Homo sapiens: one gene and its partners. The protein of the gene in region 3 interacts with the protein of the main gene of each other region in a pairwise test. Each region holds a gene or a part of one and is shown on either strand. Other genes may lie near its edges.

Region 1 (7,104 bases), on a different chromosome or scaffold from region 3:
GTCTCATGGGAGAGCTGCAGGCTGTCTCCCACCTCCCAAGCCTCTTTCCTGCCCACCTGTGGCCCCAAATCACTCCCCTAGGGCCACCCCACTTTGCTCCAAGGGAACAGAGGCCCAGGCAGATGCGCACTTCTCTGGACGGGAGGCATCTGTCCGGGCCTGGCCTGGCTCCTGAAAGCTGAGCTCTGCCGCCCCCTCGAGCCACTGGCCGGCTGTGCTGGCAGGAGCACCGGGCAGCACCCGGGCTCCCTCGCTGTCACTCAGACCAACATATGGGATAGTCATCACTGGAGGAAGCAGCCCCCACATCCCTGGCCGGCTTCCTCCCAGCACAGCAGGGGGCTGCCCACCCGGCAGGCGGCGGTGGCACTGGACAGGCCTGGCAAAGCACCCCCAGGGGCAGCAGGGTCCCACAGGCCCCGCCGAGGCCCCTCCCCCGGCCTCCGCGCTCCGTTTACAATCATCATCGATTTCTCAAAATACCAAATATAAAAAAGTAGCCGACAGGATGTGGCTGCCGACAGCCAGAGCCCCTGGGAGGGGGAGGGGAGACAGGCAGGGAGTGCGCGGCGTGGCCCCCCCGCTCTGAGTGAGCCCGCTGCTCCGGCCAGGAAACCAATTTATTTTGTTTTGTCTCTGTTCTCTGAACGCGCAGCAGAGACCGGATCGGGCGGGCGGCCAAGGCTCCTGCAGCCACAGCCAAGAGAGCCGAAGGATGGGGGAAGAACCTGGGGGGAGGGGGGCGCGTGTCTCCCCCAGGCCCCCCGGGGACAGTTCCTGACAGGCAGGCAGGAAGAGCTCCTTCAGGAAGGCCCTACACCAAAGCCTTCTCCTTCCCCCACAGCCCCCAGGGCCCAAAGGAGACTCTGCCTCACACCCAGGTGCTCCACTGGGACCACAGTCCTACCCTGGGGCCAGGCCACACTGAGGAGGGTATAGGCAGGCACTGCCTCTGGCTTCAGAGCTTCTCAGAGCTTCCAGCCCCTCCCAAATGAGGGCAGCCCCCCGCAGCCAAATCTGCTCTTGGACACAGCCCAGTGCCAGCCTCTCCACGCCGGCGGAACCCAGCCCGGTGCCAGCCTCTCCACGCTGGCGGAGCCCAGCCCGGTGCCAGCCTCTCCACGCTGGCGGAGCCCAGCCCGGTGCCAGCCTCTCCACGCTGGTGGAGCCCAGCCCAGCAGCACGCATCCCCCTTCGCCTGCAAGCTCCTTATGAGAAACAGCCGACCTCCTGCCCCTCCTGAGATGTGCTCCTGGGACTCAGTCAGAGGTCCAGAGGCAACGGCCCCAGCCCACATCAGCCACCACCAGGGGTGGGGGGCAGGGGGACCCCAGGGGAAGGGAAGGGCCACCACTGCCCAGAACATCAGGACATTAGGAGGTGGCCCTGGCCCTGTTCTGCCCGCCTGGCCCCCAGCCAACCTGTGGCCCACCCCACAGCACACACGACAGGGGCACCACCCATGCCCGTGACCCCCACCCCGACCATGACCCCCACCCAGACCATGCACGCCACGCCCAGGGAGCCCACAGCCACCCTGCAGACGCCACAGGAGCCCCCAGAGCCCGTCCACAGGCCAGACACAGGGGCATGGAGCCACACCCAGGTCCTTCCCCTTCACAAGCCATGATGACACACATACATTGCAGTCTTGTGTCCCAGACCCCGAAATTGCTCTTGCAGATGGGGAAGCAGGACGCCCACGTGGGCCTCGGCTCCAACAGTGCGGCCCACCTGCGGCAGGTCCCAGCACCCCCAGGGCAACCCCAGCCCCAACCCCCAGCACCTGCTAGGCTGTGATGGAAGCCGCCCCACCCTGCCCAGTGGGAAGCAGCCCCAGTCCTACCTCCTCATCAGAGCTGTCCTCCGCATACTCATCCCCAATCCGGGCGCTCGCCATCTCTGTCCTCGGGCAAGGAGTGCTGGCCTGCAGAGAGAGAGAGAAAATGGTCACTTCAGGGGATACAGGGTACCCTTTGACCTTGGGGGGATCCCAGGAAGCCCACCACCCCGAAATCTCTGAGCAGCTCCAGCCTGGCACAGGCCTCAGCACAAGGCCGAGAACACCCAGCTCTAAGGGGGCCTCTGGGGGCTGTGGCTGGCACCCGGCGCCGCAGGTCCTGCCCACGGCCCTGTCCTCTGTGAGGGCTGGACTGCAGCCTCCCGGGGCCTCTGTCCCTGGGCTGACACGGGTGTCAGGCTAGACACGGAAGCCACTGGGGCAGTCAGGAGCAAAGCCGCCAGCTGAGGACCAAGACCCACCGCCAACCACCCGTACCCCCATTCATGTCAAAGCCACAGGACTCCTCCCAGGGGCCCCACATGGCGCTCCTGCCGAGCCCCGCCTGGGACGGGGGCAGCATGGTCGGGGGGAAGAAGGAGACGCAGCCGTCGCAGCAGGGTCACTGGGGCCAATGCTCTTGAAGGGGCGGGGGACACACATTGTCCACCCATCCCGGGGGCCACGTCCCGCCCAGTCCAGCCAGCAGAGGGCCCAGAGAGGGCCCCGAACACTCAGAAGGCCTGCCCAGCGTTCTCCCACCCACCACGTCCACAGCCCAGGCTGACCCCATCCCGCCGGGTCACAGAGTGGGCGCCACTGAGAATTCACATCCCAACCTGGAAAACAGATTCTGCCCTCGACTGCGGAGGTGAGGATGGCTCCAACCGGATCGGGTTTACTGGCGGAACCAAGGCTGATGGGGAAAACAGGCCCACCTCTCACCCGTGGGGGCAGTAAAGTGCTCGGGCGCAGGAACCCCAGAGCGAAGGCGGGCACGCCCCCGCCCCCACCCCGAGCCCCTCTTCTCTCCGGCCCGGGCTCCTCCCCTGCCTGTTTTTTCCTTCAATATAAAGAGAGATGGGAGACTAAGTTTTTTCCCAGGCCAGGAACAAGGAAGGATTCAGTTTCCACGTCTCCCCCTGCTGCTGACAGTGGCCTGGGGCGCTCAGTGACACGGAGCTCTTGCCCCTGCCTGGAGCACATGAGCCCCCACAGCCGCAGCAGATCCGTGACCCCGGCCCCAAGCCCCAGACGCGCACAAGGGCAGTTCCACACCCGGCTGCGGTCGGCTGCCCCCGCCTGGCCTCTGCGGACGGGTACCGGGCTGGGCTCCCGACCCCTCACAGTGGCCGGGGCTGAAGCACCGCACGCTGGAGTCCCAGCCTCGCTGCTCATGGGCCGCAGTCCCAGGGTCCTGGCAGGTGACAAAAGACTTGTCACCCAGCGCTCTGTGCCCCGTGGCCCCTGTGCTGGATGTGGACAGGCCACGGCACAGGCAGGCTCTGGGCAGGGGGCAGAGGTGGCCTTCGAAGGTGCTGGGTTCCCAGGGGCGCAGCATCCCCGTGGGACAGCTGTGGGGCACAGAGTCCACCAGGGGGCGACGGCGCTCAGCCAGGCCCAGCGCCCGAAGGGCAGGGGCGGTGCGGGCAGGGGCGGTGCGGGCAGGGGCGGCCACTGCTGGGAACTGCCTGACCTAGAAGGCCCCTTCAGATTTTGGAGGCAGATGCTGTGGGGCATTGAACGTATTTTTTTTAACTTAAAAATTAGAGGAAAAGGCCACCAAAACCCTAACGACACAGACAACGGAACATGAGCCCACGCCACGCTCCGGACTCCTGGGGACAGGACCCCCTCCCGCCACGCCCATGCCTGGAGTCAGCCCGGATTCTCCAGGGTCTCCAGCACCACCCGCAGTGTGCGTGGCCTGACTGAGGAGGGGTCGGGCCCGATGGAGCACGAGAGTTGCGTGAGGGTGAAGTAAAAGCTGAGAGAGTGGGCGGGCGAGCGCCACTGGGCAGAGGCAGGCGGGTCTGAAGGACCGACGGGTGGGCAGGGAGCCGCCGAGGGGGAGCGCAAGGACGAGGTGCCAGCAGGATGCGGGGCCGCTGGGGCCAAGGAAAGGCTGCTGTAGTCCCTGAACCCTGCGTGGCCTCTGCCCAGCCCCAGGGCTAGAATGTCACCATGAGGACCAAAGGGAGAAACCCACAGTGGGCTCAGCCAGACAGAAACGGTGTCCAAGCGCATGAGCCCCCTATTGTGACCACACCAGAGCCTCCCCTCCCCAGCATCAGGCCAGCCAGGCCGTGCCCCACTGCCACCAACCAGGCATGAGACACGGGCTCTGCCCTCACCTCCTGGGAGAGGATGGCGACAGAGCTGCGGTGTCCCGGTTCGGTGGGAAGAGAACTCTGCTCCCAGGGCTGCCCACAAGAGGGTTCTGCTGGAGACGTGGACAGCAGGAGGGAAGCAGTCCTAACTTGCCCAGAGACCAGAGCCAGAACATCGCTGTCGGGGTGCCAAGGACACCAAGACAACCCAGCGCTGCACCACAGACCCCACACCCAGCACCTCAGCACGGCCAAGGCTCCCTAGGGCCCTGCCCACGCTAGCCGCAGGGTGCCCAGCACAGAGACAGGCTGCTATCCAAGAGCTCTGTGCCGATGGCTCGTGTGACAGCAACGACTCATCAACAGGTACCTAGGAAACCCACATTTTGTTTTAAAGAAAGTACATCAGCAGGAACTGAAAAGCCCAGAGAAAATACAGCCGAAAAACATCCCTTTTTACTCAGGGAAAAGGAAGGTAACTCGGGGCAGGAGCCCAAGAGTGGCAGGGTCGTTCCCAGGCATGGAGGCCAACCCTGCATGAGGCACTGGCCATGTGTGCTGCCACCAGAGGCCCCAAGACCACCACGGGCCATGACCACCAAGGGCCATGACCGTCACGGGCCACGACCGCCATGGGCCATGACCCCCATGGGCCTCAAGACCACCACAGGCCACGACCACCACGGGTCTCAAGACCATCATGGGTCTCAAGGACAGGCCCCAAGACCACTGCGTGCCACGACCGCCACAGGCCCTAAGACCACCATGGGCCCCACGATCACCACAGGCCACAACTGCCACAGGTCCCCTATACCACCATGGGCCCTGACGATCACAGGCCACAACCACCATGGGCCACGACCACCACAGGCCCCAAGACCACCACGGGCCAAGACCACCATGGCCAAGACCACCACCAGCCATGTGCTCAGCCACCTTAGGACCACCACAGACCAGAGACCACTCCACAGCACTGTGACTCGGTGCCCCACTGCAGACAGCTGTGCAGAGAGGGGCCCAAGGACCCCCATCTATCAGGCCTGGTTTAGATGAGACCCTGGCAGTGGAATGAGGTTCTGGGGAGCGCTGGGGGAAGAGACTATTTGGCAAGCGTAAGGGTGACTGTGACCATTTTAAAACACGGCCACAAACCTTTGATTTTCATCGCATCAAGAGACAGAGTCTATGTCCCCCCCGCCGCAAATCTGGGTGGGCTTGTGGCTGCTTTACCCACCCAAGGGAGGCAGCCCACACTGACACCACAGGATTCTGGGCTGAGGTCGTGAAGGCCGTGTGGCTCTGCCTGGCACAGGAGACCACGTCCTTGCAGCCCTGAGCCCTGGGAGAGGGGACAGCTGGACAGGGGTACCCTTCGTGAACATGGCTGTCAGGGGCGGTCTGGACACACAAGAGGCCCGGCTGTGCTCACCTGAGATCCTCACCCAAGTCCCAGAGCACAGGATGTGAGCTGAGTGTCGATCTTCCTCAGGTGGAATGTACCAGAACCCTCTGGGGCTCCCCGGCCCCTCAGCATGACACTGTACTCAGGGTGTACTGACCCTGCTGCTTTCGGCCTGAACTCTGACCCCTCGAATCCAGAATGCTACAAAATATCTGTTTGATGCTGCAAAGTGTCAGGGCAGGTGGCAGAACAGCTGCCTGACTCCCCCATGGGGGCCAAGAAGCTTGGAGCTGGCAGTCTTCAAAAGAACCCAAAGCAAGGCCACAGGCAGAGGCAAGAGCGGAGTTTACCACCAGCCCTGGCCCCTGGTTCCATCCCCAGCTCTGTGGTCCACACCCAGGCAACTTCTCCACCACTGACCAGCTGGTGAGAATCACTGGGCAGCCCCTTTCCAGACTCCACAGAGCTGCAGCTCCAGACCACTCTCCAGCAGACGGCACCAGCACCCAGACCCCAGAACCACAGCGACAGGGGGCCCGAGCCCAGGGTTCCCACGCTGCAGCAACGCGGCCTGCCACCTGCCATTCCCAGAGCCTTCGCTGAGACGCTGGCGGGATCCCCTGCCCAAGAGTGTGCATTATGCTCCGGCACAGGCCAAACTCTCCTTAAATTATCTGGGAAGGCCGGGCCCAGTGGCTCACACCTGTCATCCCAGCACTTTGGGAGACCGAGGCAGGCGGATCAGTTGAGGTTAAGAGTTCGAGACCAGACTGGCCTACATGGAAAACCCTGTCTCTACTAAAAATACAAAAAATTAGCTGGGCTTGGTGGCGCTCACCTGTAATCACAGCGGGAGGCTGAGGCAGGAGAAAGAACTGCTTGAATCTGGGGGGTGGAGACTGCAGTGAGCTGAGATCAGGCTATTGCACTCCAGCCCGGGTGACAGACAGACTCTTGTCTCAGAAAAAAAAAAAAATCTGGAATCATCACTTTAATACCAGGTCTTCGGCCTTCTCTCACTTTCATACCAGGTCTTAGGCCTTCTCTCAGTTTAATACCAGGTCTTTGGCCTTCTCTCACTTTAATACCAGGTCTTCGGCCTTCTCTCACTTTCATACCAGGTCTTCGGCCTTCTCTCACTTTAATACCAGGTCTTAGGCCTTCTCTCACTTTCATACCAGGTCTTCGGCCTTCTCTCACTTTAATACCAGGTCTTCGGCCTTCTCTCAGTTTAATACCAGGTCTTAGGCCTTCTCTCAGTTTAATACCAGGTCTTCGGCCTTCCCTCACTTTCATACCAGGTCTTTGGCCTTCTCTCAGTTTAATACCAGGTCTTCGGCCTTCCCTCAGTTTAATACCAGGTCTTCGGCCTTCCCTCAGTTTAATACCAGGTCTTCGGCCTTCCCTCACTTTCATACCAGGTCTTTGGCCTTCTCTCAGTTTAATACCAGGTCTTCGGCCTTCCCTCAGTTTAATACCAGGTCTTCGGCCTTCCCTCAGTTTAATACCAGGTCTTCGGCCTTCTCTCACTTTCATACCAGGTCTTTGGCCTTCTCTCAGTTTAATACCAGGTCTTCGGCCTTCTCTCACTT
Region 2 (7,987 bases), on a different chromosome or scaffold from region 3:
CAGGTGAGCCACAAAGGCCAGGGACCGCCAGAGGGCAGGGCCCACAGGCCACAGTGAAGTCTTATTTTGACTCTATGAGGAATGAGAACCCCTAGTTGCAGGATCAGGGGTCTCTTCTACCAGATAGGAGGGGATGGATGGCAGGGACCCAGCCCAGCCCATCCCAGCCCAGCTAGCCCATCCTGACAATCCAGTTCAGTTCTCCTCCATTTTCCCTTGGACCACACCTAGCAAACACAACTCACTAAAGCAAGGGCGGTGAGAAAGAGAAGGAATACCAGAACCCCAGAATGGGTATGGCAACTCAGGTAAGACAGGGATGCAGCTGAGTTTTCAATGTGCAATTCACTGCCCGGGCTTCCCACGGTCCCTCTATATTCACCTAAAGTCAGCCAAGCTCAGCTGGAGCTTCTTCCGGGCTTTGTTCCGGGTGATGTAGTTGGTGGCCGAGCCTCGTTCATACTGGGAGAGGAAAAAAACAATTCTCCATTAGCAATGATTGTAGTGACTGACATCAAACTCTGGGCATGCCTAGTTCCAGAGGCAACTATCACTCTGGATAAGTGGCTGAGATGAGTCTAGGAGAGGAAACACTGCAGGGAAGGAGCCGACCTGCCTGGATGAGCTCTCCTGTACCATCCTTGCGGCTGTCAGCATAGGGAACACATACATCTGCATGATGCTGAGGGCTGCGAGGCTGCTACGGATAGGGTGCTGTGCCAAGTGCTTAGCACTAGCTCTAAATGTTGGCCATTACAATTAGTGATTTTCACACATTTCATTTAATTCCCATAACCCTGTGATGTAGGTGCTGTCCGAACGTCCATTTCACATAGGAGAAAACGGGCTCGTAAAATAACCCATGCAACTCTTAAAAAGCACACAGCTTTTTAAGAGTTGGGGCTGGGATTCAAACTCAGGTCTGAGTCCAGTACCTGAATGCCTAATAGCTAAGCCAGTGTTCCTAATCTTTTCCCCTTCTTTTCTTCCTCATTATAACCTCTTCACCACTACCAGGAGACTTATTAGACACCCCCTTCCTCCCTCACCCATCACCCTTTCTTCCCTATGCCCCATAAAATGTTAATACCAGAGATATACTGTAGGTCTGTTTATGTAATGTAGTCCTTGGGGAGCCACAACCATTGTAATAGCTAAGATACTGCCCCTCAACCAATTTTGTTCCCTTGAGGGTGGTATTACCCTGGCTGAAAAAGCATGCTCTAAGCCACACAGCTTCTCCCCTTCCTCATTCATTCATTCAACAGACAATAACAGGTCCTCTATTATGGTCAAAGCACTAAGCTAGATGCTATGAAGGCAATAAAGACAAAAAGCCTGGTCTCTACCTGCCCCTAAGAAGCCTATTGTCTTGTATAACCATCTGGATGCCTGTGGTGCTAAGATGCTGCCTCACACCCACATTTCTGTATCCCTCACACTTCTGTATCCCTCGATAGAGACAATCAGTGCACTGTAACAAATACCCTGCAAGCTAACAAGCATGTCGTTTCCAAACAAGATCTTCCTCTGGACTAAGACAGCAGGGGCCTCTTTGGCTAGGTTCAGCTCTAAAGAGACAAACCTGTTAGTCTCCCACAGGTACGTTTACTAATAACATCATAGTCATGAAACATACCCTTCATTCATTCTTTCCTTTAGACATTAATTGTCTATTAGGTATTAGGCCCATGCTAAGTCTTGGAGGTATAAAGATGAGTTTCAGACTGCCTTAAGAAGTTGAGTTTTCATTTATAGCGTTTTCCATTACCTTATGCCACACTTATCTCTGTCACCATGCTTATCCTTATAAATGTTAAGGGAATAAATAGTTCTCAATGGGGTACTCCCTGGGTATGTGCTGGGGGGAGGAGAGTTCAGCAATGTTTGGAGACATTTTTGGTTGCTGGGTGCTACTGGTATCCAGTAGGTAAAGGATCAGGGATGTTGCCAAATATCCTACTACACACAAGACAATCCTTCCCACAACAAAGACTCATCTTTGTTGATTCTGGCTCTGAAACCCAGCTTTTAAAAACTGTAACGATTTTGTTACATATCTACATCTGCAACTCAAGGGCAGGTTTTCCATCTTGTATCTTTGCAGTTCCGATGGCTAGCACTGGATACTCAATGTAGTGTGTTGGGTTAAGAACACTGGCAATAGAAACTTTCACTCTGAAAGAAACACTTAAGCCAACTATATATTCCTCATTCCCATTCCCTTCCCAGTCTTTTCATGTCACTGGGCCGATTCTCCATACAGCCACAAGAACTCCCTGAAAAACTCTAATCGTGTTACTCCTCCTTTTTTTCCTACTGCACGTAGAATAAAATCCAAGCTCTACACTATTCCTACTGCACTTAGAATAAAATCCAAGCTTACAGGCCTTGCACGATACAGTACGTGTCCAACCCCAATCTTATCAGATGCCATTCTTTTCTTGGTTTACATGCGAGTCATCCTAATGTCCTTCCAACTCCTTACACACAGCAAGCCTTCCCTGCCTACTGATCTTGGCACTTGGTTTCCCTTGTCAGGCCTGCTCGCTAAGCACTCCCATGCCCCAGAACCCATCCAAGACGTTCTGATCTTTCCCATTTCAGCCGAAATGTTATGCCTCGAAGAGAACTTCCAAGACAACACTAACCAACTAATGTAACGGTGCAGTAACGGTGAGCTCTACGTAATGTTTATCACCCTTTCGGTAAATAGTGGTCCCACGGCTCGGCCTGCTTTTGGAATGAAGCTACGCTTGGTAAGTTCAACTCTCTTTCACAGCCCTCTCCACAGAAAGAACTCTGGAGTTCGTTCTCGGATTTCACTAAACGAATACTGCCATCCTTGTCCATTCTCGGACCCCTTCTCGCAGCTGATTACGGTCACGTCGATCCCGTCTTTCCAGTCTCCACGAGACGGAGCCCGGGAAAAGAGTCGACCCCATGCTCTGCCGCCCCCGCACCCCACCCCTCGGGAATCCCCACCGTCTTTCCCAATCACCTTCTTCTTCTCAAGGCCTCCCATCGCTCCACGTTGAGGAGCCGACTAGGGCCGCGCGTACAGGGAGCTCCACTTCCTCCCGCACGTGCCCTGCCAAGGACCCCGAGGACCCTCCCCACCCCACGCTGTCTGTTTGTGCGGGCTGCCCAATGAGATGCCTGTACAAGTCCAGGGAAAGATGGGGATTTCCTCCTCAAGATTTAAAACTATAGTCTGAAAAAAATCACTGAGAACACTCTTTCCAGATCTTTCCCGCTCACAATGGTTACAAACACTTTAAGTGTTAAAACAAACGTGGATATACAGGCTTTTCTGTAATCACCCTGATGACGATTCATTGACTGTGAGCCTCGTTGCATGTTGGGACGGAGAGGGGCGGAAGGCTTAGGGACAGCGCGGTGCCTTCTGGGATGCAGAGGGGCGCCGCACTCCATGGTGCGCGATAGGATTGCGTTGTCAAGGTAACGGTTGCTAAGCGTCGTCAGACTTCGGCTGCCGCTGCTGAGAAGCGGTTCCCGAGGGGCAGGGTGAGACTGCGCTGAGTTCCCACCGGCTTCGGGTTCTCTTTGGTTCATTCGCGGTTATGCGGCTAAAATAGAAAAAAGGAAGACATTTTTCCTCGCGGAGGTATAGAGATCCTAGAGGCCACTTATATTTTCTGAGCCTTAGTGGTGGACTCGTGGTATATTTAAAATGTACATTCAAGGCTGGGAGCGGTGGCGCACGCCTGTAATCCCAGCACTTTGGGAGGCCAAGACAGGCGGATCATCTGAGGTCAGGAGTTCGAGACCAGTGTGACCAATATAGTGAAACCCCGTCTCTGCTAAAAATACAAAAATTAGCTGGCCATGGTGGCACACGCCTGTAATCCCAGCTACTCGGGAGGCTGACGCAGGAGAATCGCTTGAACCTGGGAGGCAGAGGTTGCAGTGAGCCGAGATCTTGCCACTGCACTCCAGCCTGGGCGACAGAGTGAGACTCCATCTCAAAAATAAATAAATAAATAAAATTAAATGTACATTCAACATATTCGAGCTTTTAATTTGTACACATAAATTCTGTAAGTGTTCCTCAAATAATAATTCCAAGATTTATACAAATAGTCACATCACCTTGAGATGGTGCAGTCTGGAAGTAGATGCAATTTTAAGAGGTTTTTTTTTTTTTAAACGTTTCTCCCTTTTTCCAAATTCCAAATTTCGTTCGAAGATGATCTCAAAAGTTTAAATTTGAGGCTCTTGTGAATGTGACCTGGCCCAAGGACTTGGTCTTAGAACTTACACAGAGACAGACGTTAAGCACTGGTGAATACTTGTTTTGAACTATGTGACTTGCACTATCTAATTTAAAGCTAAAATTTAAAACCCAGCAATTCCACAGTTAAAAATGAGATGAAGCCGGGCACGGTCGCTCACACCTGTAATCCCAGCACTTTGAGAGGCTGAGGCAGGCGGATCACCTGAGATCAGGAGTTTGAGACCAGCCTGGCCAACATGGCGAAAACCCATCTCTACCAAAAATACAAAAATTAGCCGGGTGTGGTGGCAGGCACCTGTAACCCCAGCTAGTTGGGAGGCTGAGGCAGGAGAATTTATTGAACCCAGGAGGTAGATGTTGCAGTGAGCCAAGATTGTGCCACTGCACTCTGCACTCAAGCCTAGACGACAGAGCGAGGCTCCATCTCAAAAAAAAAAAGAAGAAGAAGGAAAGGGATGGACTGGAGAGGGTGGCAGTGGCTGGCTCATGAGGGCAACACAGGAACAGGGCTGGTGTCGTGAGCATGTGGCCTGGGCAGTCATCTCACCCTGTCCCTCACAAATCACCTAGCTCGTCCTGCACAGATAGAACCATGTTTGCAGAAAGTTGAGCCTTGTTTTGCTCACATTAATGTTGAGGGGTCACTGGAAGACACAGGTGGGGATGTTCAGGGAAGCAATTGTAATTTCAGCTCAAAATAGCCGTCATATAGGTACCACATTTCACAAGGGAGGAAACTAAGTCTCAGGAAAGTAAGTGATCGCTGAAGATCACTCAGCTGCTAAGCTGTGCAGAATAGATTCTCACCAAGCAGTCTGGTTTCAGAGTCCTCTGCTAAACTCACATTCCACTACCTAACGTATAGTAGAAAGAATGTTATGTGACTCCAGGATAATGCCAGGTAGATTTTTGTTCCATAAAGGGAAGAGGTTTTTAACCATTAGGGCTGCCCACACACAGAATGCTTTGTGCAATACCAAGCCTCCATCAGCATTACGGTGAAAAGCCCAGTCTCTGCAGGGAGACACACCTGGTTTACCTCTAAGCCTCGGACAAGCCACTTTACCTCAGGGTACCTCTCTTCCTCATTTGTAAGATGGGGTCAACACTAACTGCATAAAGTAGTTGTTGCTTTAAGTATGTTTACATTGTTTCATTTAAAACAAAAATTTGCTGGGCATGGTGACACACGCCTGTAATCCCAGCACTTTGGGAGGCCAAGGTGGGTGGATCACCTGAGGTCAGGAGTTCAAGACCAGCCTGGCAAATATGGTGAAACCCCATCTCTACTAAAAATACAAAAATTGTCTGGGCGTGGTGATGCACACCTGTAATCCCAGCTACCAGCGAGGCCAAGGCAGAAAAATCACCTGAACCTGGGAGGCAGAGGTTGCAATGAGCCAAAATTGTGCCATTGCACTGCAGCCTGTGCAACAGAGAGACTCTGTTTCAGAAAAAAAAAATTAGCTTGGCACGGTGCCTCACACCTGTAATCCTAGCCTTTTGGGAGGCAAAGGTGGGAGGATTGCTTGAGCTCAGGAGTTCTAGACCAGCCTGGGCAACATAGTGATACCTTGTCTCTACTAAACTGTGCCCCGCCTTAAAAAAAAAAAAAAAACACAGCCAGGCATAGGGCCAGGTTCCTGTAGTCCCAGCTACTCAGAAGCTGAGTGGGGAGGATCACTTGAGCCCAGGAGTTTGAAAGCAGCCTGGACAACATAGTGAGACCCTCATCTCTACAAAAGGAAAACTTATTTTTAATTAGCTGGTGTGGTAGTGTGTACCTGTGGTCCCAGCTACTCGTGGTCCCAGCTACTCAGGAGGCTGAGGCAAAAGGATCGCTTGGGCTCAGGAGGTTGAGGCTGCAGTGAGGTGTGTTCACGCCGCTGCACTCTGGCCTGGGTGATAGAGAGACTGGCTCTCTACATAAACAAACGAACAAACAAATAAATAAAAAGTCTCCTGTCCAAATTTATAGATTCTCATGATTTTTCAGTTAACATATCTCATAATGAGAGTGAGATTCTAAAGTCACCCCAGATTTGTTTCCTCCTGTTGCCCTGGACAATGCCTGGCACCAACAAGGACTCTTTAACAAAGTCCCCTTGCTCCTGATCACTCTGGGAAAGGGTCTGGGTAAGTCCTATCAGAATCCAAGATCTCCTGCTTGAGGTTAAAGAACTCGGAGACTGGCTGGGCGCGACAGCTCATGCCTATAATCCCAGCACTTTGGGAGGCCAAGGCGGGTGGATCACGAGGTCAGGAGTTCGAGGCTAGCCTGGCCAATATTGTGAAACCTCGTCTCTACTAAAAATACAAAAATTAGCCGGGCAAGGTGGTGCTTGCCTGTAGTCCCAGCTACTCAGGAGGCTGAGGCAGAAGAATGGCTTGAACCCAGGAGATGGAGGTTGCAGTGAGCCAAGATTGCACCACTGCACTCCAGCCTGGGCGACAAGAGTGAGACAGTGTCTCAAAAAAAAAAAAAAAAAAAAAAAGATCTTGGAGACTTTATTTCTTCCCAGCTGGGTTCCCATCATTGGTGGACCCTGGAGGGAACCTTCCCCTGTCAGCCCTGCATTGGCAGGGGCCTTCCCAGTCCTTCCCAGTGCCTGGTCCCAGTTCCCTGCATCCAGACCCTGCAAGGAATGTCTTTGTCAACCCTGGGTTTAAAGGTGGCCTCCCTGATTCCCTCCATTCAGACCACGGAGGGAACATTTTGTGGACCCTGGGCTTACCGGCAGGGGTGGAGGTGTAATCCGGTCAAACTCAGCTGATTCGTAGATTTTGTGAGGGTGCTTATGCTAAGAGTACTCTCAAAGGGTCACCTGGGTAAGGGAAGTGCAATTATAGGGGGTGCTTAGTACTAACGGGACAGTCTCTAGCCAACCACCTTCAGGAACCCTTTGGCTTACATGTTTAAAAACCACATGGAAAGTTCAAAGACATGCTAGCTTTTTTGGGACGCTAGCTGGCTACATATTATAGCCCGTTTTTGTGCACATTTTTAAACTGGTGGGCAAATTACATCAAGGAAAATTCAGAGCTCAAATGGTCAACCTGCAGTTACAGAGTTAACATGTAGAGTCTTCTACATTCTCTATTTTATTTTTCTACCTGCTTTAAGTCTGTTGACTTTTCTACTGGTGTTGAGATAAAACTCTTTACAGTGTTACTAATTCAAGGCTACCTGGAGATTTTTTCTATATAGTTCAGCCAGGTTCCAGCTAAAATATAAGCATTAAAAATTTAACCCTAAACTCATTGTTTTTTCAAGTGTGTGTGTGTGTGTGCGTGTGTATATGGATATGGGGTCTTGCTATGTTGCCCAGGCTGGTTTCCAACGTCTGGGCTCAAGCAGTCCTCCTGCCTCAGCCTCTGAAAGTGCTGGGATTACAGGCATGAGCCACCATGCCTGGCCCCATTTAAAACTTAAAAAAAAAAAAAAAGATTTTAAAAATCAAACTGCCATGGAAACTACCCAAAATTTTGGTTCACAGCCTCCATTAGATTACCTATTAGGATAAATAAAGTTTAGCCATGTAAACAAGTTCCAGTTTTGTCAAAAATAATTTGGACCCAACCATCTTTTATAAACCGATGACTCTGTAGTACTGAGAGATGATGCGTGCTGGCAGCCCTCACAGCCCTCGCTCGCTCTCAGTGCCTCCTCGGCCTCGGCGCCCATTCTGGCCACGCTTGAGGAGCCCTTCAGCCCCGCTGCTGCACCGT
Region 3 (7,104 bases):
GTCAACAAAACCCAGAATGTTACAAAACAGATGACCCACTTTCATCAACAAATACATGGCAAGGAGAAAAAGGAGGAGGAACTGTTAAAGATTAAAAGAAACATTAATCAAATATAATGTATGGATTATGGATGCTGATTTTTGAAAGCTCACTGTAAAAGAACATTGACTATTTGATGTTAGAAGGAGTGATTGTTAAATTTTAAAATATTGTGACAAATTTTTGAAGTCCTTATATTTTAGAGATACATACTAAAGTATTTACAGATGAAATGATATAATTTCTGAGATTTGCTTTAAAATAAACCAGCCGGGGAATGGAGGGTGGAATATAGATGATGTCCCATTAGTTGGTGGATGTCAAAATGGGCAATAGTGATGAGATTCATTGTTATTTCTACTTTTGTGTATGTTTGAAATAATAAAAGTTTTCTAAACCAAAATAATTACACCAACAACAGTAAAAAGACATTATACTAACAGAACAAAGTATTTCTGATCTTAAAAATCACAGAGAAACTCAGGCCACACTGGGATAATAGGTACCTGTTTGTTTTGGGAGTTCTCATATACCTCTGCCAATATTACTTTAGACACTAAGAGTGATAATTTTGTTATGTATTTTCCTCAGAGTTCCACAAACATGTGGAGTTTGATTTCCTTATTAAGGGCCAGTTTCTGCGAATGCCCTTGGACAAACACATGGAAATGGAGAACATCTCATCAGTAAGTTCAAATTCTTATCTTCTGTATTTCACTTGAGGCATTATCGGCTATTGTAGGTAAACTCCTTTTAGAATCACACTGAATCTATCTTTAGTAGCAAAGATTCTTTTTAATATATTGGCTATATATGTTGTGTGTGTTATGTATTGTGTGTATATTTTATGTGTGTATTGAATATATATAGTGTGTGTGTATATATATATGTATATTCCTGTATATTCAATTTTGAAGCCCTCTTTTTTTGTGAGAGTGTTTTATTCAAGAAATAAATGAACACATTCTTTATATTTGTGGAAGAACTGGCAAGAAAGGGAATAGCAAATATGTGTGTACAAATACTGGTGCACAAAATAACTGGGCAAATATAAAAACTATGGGTTAAGTTACTGTTATTTTTCCCTTTTATTTTCAAAGTTTCCTTATATTGCTTTTATGATTAAAAATATAACTTATAATTGTTGCTTGTTTTGTGATTTTAAAAATTGTGGTAAAATATACATAACATAAAATTTAGAATTTTAACCATTTTTAAGTATACAATTCAGTGGCATTAAGTGCCTTTGCAGTATTATGCAACCATCACCATTTTCCAGAATTGTTTCCTTATCCTAAACAGAAGACCTGTACCCATTAAACAATGTGCTTTTTTTCTTAATTTTAATGTTTTCTTTTATCTTCTTTTTTTTTTTTTTTTCTGAGACAGAGTCTCCATCTGTTGCCCAGGCTGGAGTGCAATGGCACAGTCTTGGCTCACTGAAACCTCTACCTCCTGGGTACAAATGATTCTTGCGCCTCAGCCTCCAAAGTAGTGGGATTGCAGGCATCTGCCACCACGCCTGGCTAATTTTTGTATCTTCAGTAGAGACAGAGTTTCACCATGTTGGCCAGGCACATCTTGAACTCCTGATCTTAGGTGATCCACCCGTCTCGGCCTCCCAAAGTGCTGGGGTTATGGGTGTGAGCCACTGCACCTGGCCTAAGGCTTTCTTATATTCCTTTCCCCCCCATTTGCAGCATAAGTTGTACAAGGCGATTAATATTTCTTCTTTTTAAAATTTTTGTTAGGAGACAGGGTCTTGCTTTGTTGCCTGGGCTGGACTTGAACTCCTAGGCTGAAGCAGTCCTCCTGCCCCAGCTTTCCTAATGTTAATAGCTGGGACTACAGGTGTGAGTCACCATGCCAAGCTATTATTTCCTAATATCACTCTTAGCTTACAGTTAGGTCAAATAAAGTTCTTGACTTTTTGAATGGCTCCAAATTTGCTGAGTTATAAAGGGGACTAATATGAAGGATATAAAGGAGATATATTAAATTGGGGGTTATCTTCATAATGTAATATTTTAAAACTAGACCACCTGACTTGTTGCTGGTTTCTCTTGTGATTAGGAAGAAGTTGTGGAAATAGAATACGTGGAGAAGTATACTGCACCCCAGCCAGAGCAATGCATGTTCCATGATGACTGGATCAGTTCAATTAAAGGGGCAGAGGAATGGTATTGCCAGATTAATGCCCTTCTCTTTTTTTTGTTTTGTTTTTACCTCCTTCAGTCTTTTTAAATCCATATATACATATTTTTCTGTGATTTAATGTTATTTGTAAATTAATTTTGTGATCTCTGTATCAGTGGCCATGGCAAACAGAAAGATCTTTTCATTCAGTGTCTTCAAGAAGAAACAGGTGGCTGGGTGCAGTGGCTCATGCCTGTAATCCCAGCACTTTGGGAGGCCGAGGAGGGTGGATTACGAGGTTGGGAGATCGAGACCATCCTGGCTAACATGGTGAAACCCTGTCTCTACTAAAAAAGTACAAAAAATTAGCCGGGCGTGGTGGTGGGCGCCTGTAGTCCCCGCTACTTGGGAGGCTGAGGCAGGAGAATGGCGTGAACCTGGGAGGTGGAGCTTGCAGTGAGCTGAGATGGCCCCACTGCACTCAAGCCTGGGCAACAGAATGAGACTCTGTCTCAAAAAAAAAAAAAAAAAAAAAAAAAAAACCACAGGTATTTATTAATAGGTACTCTTTTTCTGTTCTGTTCAATATGTGGTAGTAACAATTATTGTTGCCTTTTTTTTTTTTTTTTTAAACGGGGTCTCTCTCTCTTGCCCAGGCTGGTCGCAAACTCCTGGGCTCAAGCAGTCCTCCTGCCTCAGCCTCCTGAATAGGTGGGATTTCTCTACACCCAGCAATATTTGTCTTCTGAATAAGTCATGTATCTTAGAGCATTTAATTTATTTGGTTCGATTATGTTGCTTTTAAGACCAAGGATATAGTTTGTTTCATAAAGGAAAAAAGTAACTTTTATAGCCATAGATCTCCTGGCCTAATACCTTAAAGATGCATAGCATACTATTTTAGGGCTAGAAGGAGCAGACTGGACTCAGCAAAGAAGGTACAGATATCTTAGGGCAAATCCTCACTGGCCTTACTTGTAGGAAAACAACTCAAGAGTAGATTATGGTAGGAGCTTCTTTCAAAGAATGCCTTCTTGGAGTTATTACATAAAGTTATATTTCTCCTAGTTTTACTTTTAGTTTAAATGGTTTTCACTGGTTAAGTACAAAATACTTCAGGTGGACAGCCAGGCGCGTGGCTCACGCCTGTAATCACAGCACTTTGGGAGCCTAAGGCAGGTGGATCACTTGAGATCAGAAGTTTGAGACCAGCCTGGCCAAAATATTGAAACCTGTCTCTACCAAAAATATAAAAAATTAGCCAGGTATGGCGGTCTGTGCCCATAGTCCCAGTTACTCGGGAGGCTGAGGCAGGAGAATCACTTGAACCCAGGAGGCAGAGGTTGCAGTGAGCTGAGATCGCGCCACTGCCTTCCAGCCTGGGCAACAGAGCAAGACTCCATCTCAAAAAGAAAAAAGAGTACTACAGGTTGGGTATTCCTTATCTGGAAATGTTTGGTACCAGAAGTATTTTGGATGTAGGATTTTTTTTGGGTGGGGGTGGTTTTGGAATATTAACATATACATAGTGAAATATTTTAGGGATGTGATCCAAGTCTAAACATGAAATTCATTTATGTTTCATATACAGCTTATACACCTAGCCTGAAAGTAATTTTATACTATGTATATATATGATATATATTTTTTATATATATATATATATTTTTTTTTTTTTTTTTTTTTGAAACGGAGTCTCGCTCTGTCACCCAGGCTGGTGTGCAGTGGCGCAATCTCGGCTCACTGCAAGCTCTGCCTCCTGGGTTCACGCCATTCTCCTGCCCCAGCCTCCTGAGTAGCTGAGACTACAGGCACCCGCCACCATGCCTGGCTAATTTTTTGTATTTTTAGTAGAGACAGGGTTTCACTGTGTTAGCCAGAATGGTCTCGATCTCCTGACCTCGTGATCCGCCTGCCTCAGCCTCCCAAAGTGCTGGGATTACAGGCGTGAGCCACCACGCCCAGCCATGCCAGGTATTATTTTTAGGAGGTTGAGAAACGTCAAGTGATCTGATCTAGTATGGCTTGAAATCTCAATCTTCATATCAAAAAAGAGTTTAAAAGTATAATCCTCAAAGTTACTTTGTCATTGCCAAAGAAACATTTCAGGGTTTGGAAAAACTGCTTTTTGTGTTTCATAAGATTTTTTTTTCTCATAGGATCTTGACTGGTTCTTATGATAAGACTTCTCGGATCTGGTCCTTGGAAGGAAAGTCAATAATGACAATTGTGGGACATACGGATGTTGTAAAAGATGTGGCCTGGGTGAAAAAAGGTTAGGACAGTTTGCCTACACTTAGAGGAATCCTAGATAGGGATTTGGAAATAAGCCATTTTTGGTGCTGGGGAAGAATGGGGAGTGGGTGGGAAGTATCTCATACCTCAGTTATTATGAGGTCTTTCAAAAAATACAGTGTTCAAGAAGAAAAAGATTATATAAAAAATTCATAAATTGTTAGAAGTGTATCTTTATTAAAATTACATCAGATAATATACATTTTCAAGTTAATATTGAATGTATTACATTCATCTTTTATTTTCTTCTGTTTTTGTTTGTTTGTTTTGTTTTGTTTTGTTTTGTTTTGTTTTTGAGATAGTCTCGCTGTGTCACCCAGGCTAGCGTGCAGTGGCATGATCTCGGCTCACTGCAACATCCACTTCCCAGGTTCAAGCGATTCTCCTGCCTCAGCCTCTCGAGTAGCTGGGACTACAGGCACCTACCATCACGCCTGGCTAATTTTTGTATTTTTAGTAGAGACGGGGTTTCACCATCTTGGCCAGGCTGATCTCGAACTCCTGACATCATGATCCACCCGCCTTGGCCTCCCAAAGTGCTGGGATTACAGGCGTGAGCCACTGCACCCAGCCTGTTTGTTTGTTTTTTGAGGCAGAGTCTCACTCTGTCGCCCAGGCTAGAGTGTAGTGGCTCCATCTCAACTCACTGCAACTTCCACCTCCTGAGTTCAAGTGATTCTCCTGCCTCAGCCTCCTGAGTGGCTGCAATTACAGGCGCCTGCCACCACACCCGGCTAATTTTTATATTTTTAGTAGAGGCAGGGTTTTGCCATGTTGGCCAGGCTGGTCTCAAACTCCTGACCTCAAGTGATCTGCCTGTGTTGGCCTCCCAAAATGTCAGTATTTACAGGCGTGAGCCACCACACCCAGTCATCGTCATCTATTTTTGAAGAATCTTTTCTTTATACCACATCAGCCTTTTAAAACCTGGCCATATGAGTTATCTTTTTAACATCTTTTTCAATAACAACAAAAAAATTTAGTTCTTTGGTTTCAGAACATGATGTATTCTAAATGGTATACTGATTTGTTTCTTATTCTTGTGTTCTCCTTTCTCCAGATAGTTTGTCCTGCTTATTATTGAGTGCTTCTATGGATCAGACTATTCTCTTATGGGAGTGGAATGTAGAGAGAAACAAAGTGAAAGCCCTACACTGCTGTAGAGGTCATGCTGGAAGTGTAGATTCTATAGCTGTTGATGGCTCAGGAACTAAAGTAAGTAGCTAGAATATTATTAGTACTCTGTTAAATTTGAATTTGAGCTTGTTGCTAAACATTTTCTTCTGCATATATTCATTGTGTTGGCCTAGTTTCCTAACAATCGGTGACAAAAGATAGGATTTCAAAGCAAGAGTAAATACTCATACAATAGGAGATAGTCACTTGCTCAGTTTGAATCCCTGGTTTAGAACCTTATATAAACTCCAGAAATTTTAAGAAATGAGGTATGGGCCGGGCGCGGTGGCTCACGCCTGTAATCCCAGCACTTTGGGAGGCCGAGGCGGGCAGATCACCTGAGGTCAGGAGTTCAAGACCAGCCTGACCCACATGGAGAAACCCTGTCTCTACTAAAAAAAAAAAAAAAAAAAATAAGCCGGGCATGGTGGCGCATGCCTGTAATCCCAGCTACTCGGGAGGCTGAGGTAGGAGAATCACTTGAACCCGGGAGACAGAGGTTGCAGTGACCGAGATTGCACCGTTGCACTCCAGCCTGGGCCCAACAAGAGTGAAACTCAGTCTCAAAAAAAAAAAAAAAAAAAAAGAAAGAAATGAAGTAAACAAGCCATTCATTTATATAACCTTCTTACCTCATAGTAATTGACATATTTCCAGTCTATATCAGCTACTCTTAAGTGCTGTCATCAACTGAAAACGCCTAGTTGATAGTCTGAGCATTAGCATACACTAAAGTTAGTGCTAATAGAGTTTTACTATAGTATCAATCTACTCTTTATCATGACAAAATGGTAAAAGTTAGTTAAAAGGTAACAAACCTGAGGGCAATACCATATTGATTTATTAATATGAAGGGTTATAAATCCACTTAGAATTTGAAAGTTTCCTAAGCCACATTGAAGTATTCTGGACTTAAGAGTGTTTCTTTGACAGTTAGGGTAACAGGATGCTTGTATTCAAAGGTGAAGATTTATGATTTTTCATATTGAGCCGAAAAGTTTTATATGTTGTTTAGTCCAAACTTTAGTGGATTAACTGTACCTCTTCTTTTTGGTTAAGGAGAGATAGAAACTCAACTTGAACTTATTTAACCTTAAAAGTAAATGGATTGTGAGATCCAAGGAAAGATTGAACAACCACATCACAAGAAGGGTAATGGTGCATTTGGGCCTCAGGAACCAGTGGAATAGAGGCTTGAATGTGGTCCGCACACCCTCTCGCTGTCTTGTCCCTCAAGTTGACTTTATTCTCTCTCACTTCAGATTGGCTTTCTTCAAAAGACATGGCAATAAGCTTGGCCTTCAAGATTTCCCAGATTTTATGTTCTGTCCTATCTGCCCCTGGAAAAAGGCTAATTTCAGTTCTGTGGAACACAAGTTCTTTGAAAAGGTCCTGAATGAGGAAGAGACCTACTGTTGTAGGCAAATAATATGAATCATATTACATATGTCTTTTCC

What was found.
Region 1: the proteins of WDR12 (region 3) and BOP1 interact in binary tests that used the Homo sapiens proteins (3 or more experiments, as listed by UniProt).
Region 2: the proteins of WDR12 (region 3) and PES1 interact in binary tests that used the Homo sapiens proteins (3 or more experiments, as listed by UniProt).

What each region holds. Positions count from the first base shown.
Region 1 is NC_000008.11:144,274,378-144,281,481, forward strand, and holds part of BOP1 (ribosome biogenesis protein BOP1), read right to left. Parts: intron 1,928-7,104; coding exon 1,847-1,927; intron 1-1,846. UniProt on the Homo sapiens protein: Component of the PeBoW complex, which is required for maturation of 28S and 5.8S ribosomal RNAs and formation of the 60S ribosome.
Region 2 is NC_000022.11:30,588,809-30,596,795, forward strand, and holds the start of PES1 (pescadillo homolog), read right to left. Parts: upstream 3,103-7,987; 5' UTR 3,026-3,102; coding exon 3,002-3,025; intron 463-3,001; coding exon 383-462; intron 1-382. UniProt on the Homo sapiens protein: Component of the PeBoW complex, which is required for maturation of 28S and 5.8S ribosomal RNAs and formation of the 60S ribosome.
Region 3 is NC_000002.12:202,894,647-202,901,750, reverse strand, and holds part of WDR12 (ribosome biogenesis protein WDR12), read left to right. Parts: intron 1-631; coding exon 632-726; intron 727-2,113; coding exon 2,114-2,220; intron 2,221-4,335; coding exon 4,336-4,451; intron 4,452-5,531; coding exon 5,532-5,686; intron 5,687-7,104.